Regions from separate parts of the Homo sapiens genome. Here region 2 is reported to be linked to region 1. The links are microRNA targets in miRTarBase. Many come from high-throughput screens and were not tested one by one. Region 1 holds a microRNA gene; the other region holds the end of a gene's coding sequence.

The links. The annotated mature microRNA hsa-miR-3944-3p reads UUCGGGCUGGCCUGCUGCUCCGG and lies in region 1 at 1,018-1,040, opposite strand. An mRNA with a match to its seed (bases 2 to 7 or 8) in the 3' UTR can be bound and repressed. Matches are read on the target gene's strand: a 7mer-m8 pairs with bases 2 to 8, a 7mer-A1 pairs with bases 2 to 7 and ends in A, and an 8mer does both.
Region 2: miRTarBase lists VPREB1 as a target of hsa-miR-3944-3p. Seed matches in the 3' UTR shown: 7mer-A1 at 2,635-2,641.

What each region holds. Positions count from the first base shown.
Region 1 is chr10:133,370,562-133,373,709 of GRCh38, forward strand. It overlaps MIR3944 (microRNA 3944), which reads right to left and starts at 1,102; the gene lies at 995-1,102. It overlaps ECHS1 (enoyl-CoA hydratase, short chain 1), which reads right to left and starts at 2,793. Exons shown (of 8, transcript NM_004092.4): 1 at 2,685-2,793; 2 at 1-196. The coding sequence starts at 2,772. RefSeq lists a silencer at 2,556-3,065.
Region 2 is chr22:22,245,042-22,248,041 of GRCh38, reverse strand. VPREB1 (V-set pre-B cell surrogate light chain 1) reads right to left here. Exons shown (of 2, transcript NM_007128.4): 2 at 2,527-3,000. The coding sequence ends at 2,705. It also overlaps IGL. Among named protein-coding and RNA genes, the nearest start is that of VPREB1, 1.8 kb to the right of the region's middle.

The DNA of each region.
Region 1 (3,148 bases):
GCAAAGGCCTTATCCCCGCCGGTGAGGACAATGGCCCCCACGGCCGGGTCCTCCTCGAAGGTCTTCAGGGCCTGGTTGAGCTCGTCAATCAGGCCATCGCAAAGTGCATTGAGGGCCTTGGGGCGGTTCAGTTGGATCAACCCCACGGTGTTATTCTTCCCTCTTTTTTCTGCGATGATGTACTCAAAGTTAGCACCTGGAGCAAGAAGGCAAAAAGGGGTATCTATTCACACAGGTATCAAACTGGGGAGAGTGGGGGAAGGGATGTGGCCCCATCGGTGGATACAGTGTGACCCCAAGAGGCCCTCTGAGGGCTCCCTGCCGAGTCCTCAGTGGCTCCAGGTGTAGCTCTCAGCCACAAGGATAGATGGTAGCCTTGGTACCATTCTCTCTGCTTTCACATGTGTTTGAACATGTCCTAAAGAAAATCCCCGGGCCGGGCGCGGTGGCTCACGCCTGTAATCCCAGCAATTTGGGAGGCCGAAGCGGTCGAATCACAAGGTCAGGAGATCGAGACCATCCTGGCTAACACGGTGAAACGCCGTCTCTACCTAAAATACAAAAAATTAGTCGGGTGTTGTGGCGGGCGCCTGTAGTCCCAGCTACTGGGGAGGCTGAGGCAGGAGAGTGGCATGAACCCAGGAGGTGGAGCTTGCAGTGAGCTGAGATCATGCCACTGCACTCCAGCCTGGGTGACAGAGTGAGACTCCGTCTCAAAAAAAAAGAAAAGAAAAAAAGAAAAATCCCCAGCACAGAACACAGCCCACAGCCGCTTTCCTTCTCCTAATATGCCTTGGTCAGCTCTTCCCAGGACACCACTCTGGAGACAGCCCTGGACTCTGCTGAGACAAGGCACCAGGAAACACCTTCTTTCAACAAATGCCAACAGGTGAGGGGGTGTAAGGCAGCTCCTTGCACTTGGTACCGCCCCAGTGCCAAGACCTCTGGCCAACTGGACGCAGGGTGGGGGATGTGAAAATCCTGGGTGTTCCTGCAGCATTAAGATCAGGCACAGGTCCGGAGCAGCAGGCCAGCCCGAAAATGGGAGACGCAGGCGCTTCTCGGTTGGCCTGCTGCACAGGACCTGCGCCTGCTGGGTGGACAGCAAGGTGGGAAGGAGACAAAGGACAATGGCGTTCCAGGGGTGAGAAGGTGAACCTGAAAAGACAAAGGTAGCCTGTGTGTTGGATGCTTGCCTCCGTTAGTGGCAGAGCAGGGATCATAGTCCCTGTGCTATGGGTTTCTTTTTTTTGGAGACCGAGTCTCACTCTATTGCCCAGGCTGGAGTGCAGTGGCGCAATCTTGGCTCACTGCGACCTCTGCCTACAGGGTTCAGGTGATTCTCCTGCCTCAGCCTCCCGAGTAGCTGGGACTACGGTCACACACCACCACACCTGGCTAATTTTTGTATTTTTAGTAGACATGGGGTTTCACCATGTTGGCCAAGGTGGTCTTGATGACCTCAGGTGATCCACCTGCCTCAGCCTCCCAAAGTGCTGGGATTATAGGCATTAGCCACTGTGCCCCGCCGTATCCTGTGGGTTTCTAGGGGTAACTGGAAGATCACAGGTGAAGTGTCTGGCAGCAGTGCCCGCCATGCAAGATCCAGGAAAGGGCTGCTGTCAGGGTGGAGAAGCCGAAGGCCAAGGAGAGCATGGAGATGAAACCAACACAACTCAGTGGTCCACTGCTACACAGGGTGAGGGAGGAAGAGGAAGCAAGAGTTCTTCCCCAGCCCAAGGCATGGCCCAAGATTCCTCAGATACTAGAGCCGGTGATGGCCGCTCATGAGTGGGGCCCCGGGTGAGCCACGAGGGAGGAAGAGGGCAGCCCCCTGTGGCTGGGGAGGAGGTGTCAGCTTTTCCCTTAGGACCCTCTGAGGGGTGGCCCTGGTCAGGAGGCACCCAGGACAAAATGCACCTGCATCTCCTGTTCTCGGGCTGGCCGGCTGCACAGGAGCTACGCCTGCTCTTAGAGCCGAGGGAACACCCCGGATTTTTACAACCCCCACCCTGCGCCCAGTTGGCCAGAGGTCTTGGCACTGGGGCAGTACCAGCCAGCCGCCGGGCCTCCCGCAGGACGTGGCCTGGTGAGAGTGGCCTCCTGCAGAGCCAGGCAGGGGGTGGGGGTGCGGGCCAGGGTCAGGTGGGTGGTGTCGGTGCGGGGTGGCGGGTGGTGGGGGGGTGTTAAGCCTGGGTCAGGCTGTGGGTGCGGGTCAGGTGGGGGGTGCAGCACTAGGCGAGGGGGGTGTTGCAGGCCTGAGCCAGGCAGGGGCTGCGGGTCGGGGTCAGGTGGTAGGTGCGGGGTCAGGCAGGAGAGTGCGGAGTCAGGCCCTGGGGATGCGGGATCGGACGGAAGAGGGGTGCGGGGTCAGGCCGGGGGGTGCGGGGTCAGGTGGGGGGGTGCGGGGTCAGGCGGAGTGGGGTGCGGGTAGGGGTCAGGCCGGAGGGTGCGGGGTCAGGTGGGGGGGTGCGGGGTCAGGCGGGGGGGTGCGGGGTCAGGCGGAGTGGGGTGCGGGTAGGGGTCAGGTGAGGGTGCGGGGTCAGGCGGAAGAGGGGTGTGGGTTGGGGTCAGGTGGGGGATGCGGGGTCAGGTGGGAGGGGGGTGCGGTCTGGGATCTGGTCTGGGCGTGCAGGTCGGAGTCAGGAGGAGATTCGGGCCGCCAGCTCTCACCGCGCACTCACCCGAGGCGAAGGGACGCCAGGCGGGACAGCGAACCGGGGGCCTCAGCGGGCCGCGGACGCAGGACAGCAGGACACGCAGGGCGGCCATGGCTCTCTGGACTCCTCGCCCGGCCCCGCGGAGCCGCCCCCTCGCCTATAGCCTTTCAGGGCTCGCTCCGCCCACAGGCCAGCGCCGCGAGACCAGGCGGCCCTCGCGAGATCAGCCCGGGCAGAGTGAGCGGGTCGCTCTCCGCCAGGCCCCGCCCCCAGGCCCGAGCTGCCGCTCGCGGATCTAAGGCCGAGGGGCGTCCCCGGGACCCCGCCCTGGGCTGGGACCAGCGCCCTCCAGGCCCCGCCGCAGTCGCCCGCGCCCCCGCCCCCGCCCCAGCCCTCGGGGTCCCAGCTGGCCCCGGGGAGACCGCGCGGAGGCGGAGGCAACGGCGGCGCCTGCCGGGCTCTGCGCCGCCTCCCCCCGCCCGCCTGCC
Region 2 (3,000 bases), not on the chromosome of region 1:
CCTTAGGTGATCTGCCCGCCTCGGCCTCCCAAAGTGCTGGGATTACAGGCATGAGCCACCACGCCTGGCCAGATAAAAACTTTTTATATAAGTTAATCAGTTCTATGATTATCCCCTTTACATGCAACATTGGAAATGTTGGCTTAGATTTTAAGTGACTCCTCCAGAGCTAAGACTCACACTCAGTCTGGCCTCAAGCCTGAGTTCCAGGTCTCATTTTCCATTGAGCTGGTGGGGTGGGGGCATGAGGATGATACAGGAGTCCAACTCAGCTCCCGGCTTTCTAGATCTCTTCTCATAGCATGGAATCCCAGAATCATGAAGGATGGAGGCAAGAGAGGGACGGGTTACAAGCAGAAGACAGAGTTCCTCTGGAACCATCTAGCTGGTCTTTAAAACTGTGGGCCATGGCCAGGTGCAGTGACTCACACGTGTAGTTCAGCCACTCAGCAGGCTGAGACAGGAGGATCGCTGGAGCCCAGGAGTTCAAGGCTGTAGAGCATCATGAATTGAACCTGTGAATAGCCACAGCAGTCCAGCCTGGGCAGCATAGCAAGATCCTATCTCTAAAATAAAATAATAAACAAGTAAATAATAATGTTTTAAAATGTGGGCCTGGCCCAGGGGTAAAAGCCTGATGCAGGAAGAACCCAGTGCATAGAGTATGGCATAAGCTGAGATCACTGTCTCTTTTTTTTTTTTTTTTTTTTTTTGTGAGATGGAGTCTCGCTCTGTCACCCAGGCTGGAGTGCAGTGGCATGATCTCGGCTCACTGCAACCTCTGCCTCCTGGGTTCAAGCAATTCTCCTGCCTCAGCCTCCCAAGTAGCTGGGATTACGGGCATGTGCCAACACACCCAGCTAATTTTTGTATTTTTAGTAGAGATGAGATTTCACCATGTTGGGTAGGCTGGTCTCTAACTCCTGACCTCAGGTGATCCACCCGCCTCGGCCTCCCAAAGTGCTGGAGACCACTGTTTAACAAGAGAGGGACTCATGACCACACATGGAACGCTGATACTGACATGTGTCCACCTCTCTGGGGAGATGCCTCAGGATCTTTTTAGCTGGGGTGAATGCACGTTCCCAGGCAAGTTGGGGTTACAAGGGAGATGGTTTGCCCGGCACCTCTCTGAGTGAGGCATGTCTACAGGTTGTGTGAACACCCAATGTAGAGAGTCCCTCTCCGCAAGGCACACTCAGACCCACCACCCACGGGCTCAGGGGGCCTTGCTGTGGGCCGGGGCTGCAGGGAGCTCCCCATTGCTACTTCACCCAGACAGTCCAACACAGTCTCAGTGAGACCACGTCCTTCATGCCTCTAGGTATCTCCATGGGTCCAGAGGCTTCTGCCTGGGGTCACAGGCAAGATAAGTTGAGGGGGGACTCTGATTATCCCACCAAGCATGGCTTGCTTAAAACCTGGAGACAGGAGCTGGAGTGCTCCCGAGCAGGGCTCAGCAAACTACAGCCTGGGCGCCATACCCAGCCCAGTGTAGCCCCATCTGTTTCTGTAAATACAGCTTTATAAGAACACAGCCATGCCTCTTTGTTGACATGTTTGTCTGTGGCTGCTTTCTTGCTACTAGGACAGAATTGAACAGTTGTGACAGAGATCGCATAGCCCACAAAGCCAAAAATATTTACCACCTGGCTCTTTATAGAAAATGGGCTGGGTGCAGTGGCTCACGCCTCTAATCCCAGCACTTTAGGAGGCCCAAGCAGGGGGATCACTCGAGCTCAGGAGTTTGAGATCAGCTTGAGCAACATAGTGAGACATTCATCTCTCCAAAAATAAAACTAAATAAATAGCCAAGCATGGTGATGCACGCCTGTAGTCTCAGCTGCTCAGGAGGCTGAGACAGGACAATCACTTGAGCCTGGGAGTTTGAAGCTGCGGTGAGCTATGATTGCACCACTGCACTCCAGCCTGGACCACAGAGCAAGACTTTATCCCTAAAAAAAGGAAAAAAAGAACATGTTTGCCGACACCTGCCACTCTCTTGTACAAATAAGTAAATGCATTTACTTGCTCATCTAGACCAGTGGTTCACAATCAGTGTGAGTTTACCACCTGGGGACATTTGGCAATGTCTGGAGACATTTTTGTTTGTCACAACTGGGAAGGGGCATCTGGTGGGTAGAGGCCACAGATAACCACTCACCATTCAACAATCCGCAGGACAGCCCCACAACCAAGAACTGTCCAGCCCAAAACGTCGATAGGACCAAGGTGGAGAACCCACTCTAGGCCTATTACCTGGCTCCTGTTCTCCCTGGAGGCCCAGACCAGGTGCTTTCTAAGCTTGTTTGCCCTGTAACCGCTGGGCAGAATCAGATGACACCAGAGGGTCCTGTCCTGGGCATGGATGCCCCTCCAGGGTGCTTCGGTCAACCCCTTGCCTCCCATGGCCCACAAAAGTAAGGACTCAGGTGAGTGCTCACCACAGTGATCTGCCAGTCTCCCGGGGCCCCGGGCCTTTGCCCAAGGCTGGTACTACGAAGTCGCACAACAGTCAGACCAAACTCAGCAAAAAGTGACAAGCAGCTTTAATTCCCTAATGCAGTCTCCAATGGGGATTTACAGCAACACTGCAGGACCAGGAGATGCTGAGTGGCTCAGCCTCCTCGGCGCTTCGGGCGGCGACTCCACCCTCTTCCATGACAGTCTCTCCAAGGGGATGCGTGCCTCTGCTGTCTTCAGTTCAAGGGACACGTGTCCTGGCTGCAGTGGGTTCCATTTCTTCCTCCCACTCCCTCTCCCTCTCCTCCTTCTCCGAGCTGCGGGCCCCCATAGCACAGTAATACATAGCCTCGTCCTCAGGCTGCAGCTCAGAGATGCTCAAATACCCCCTGTTCCTGGCCACATCTTTGGATCCAGAGAAGCGAGGGGGGACCTGGGGGCCCTGGCTCTTGTCTGATTGTGAGAAATATCTCAGCAGGAACCTGGGAGGGTGGCCCGGCCTCTGCTGGTACCAGTAGACGCTGTACACACCGATGT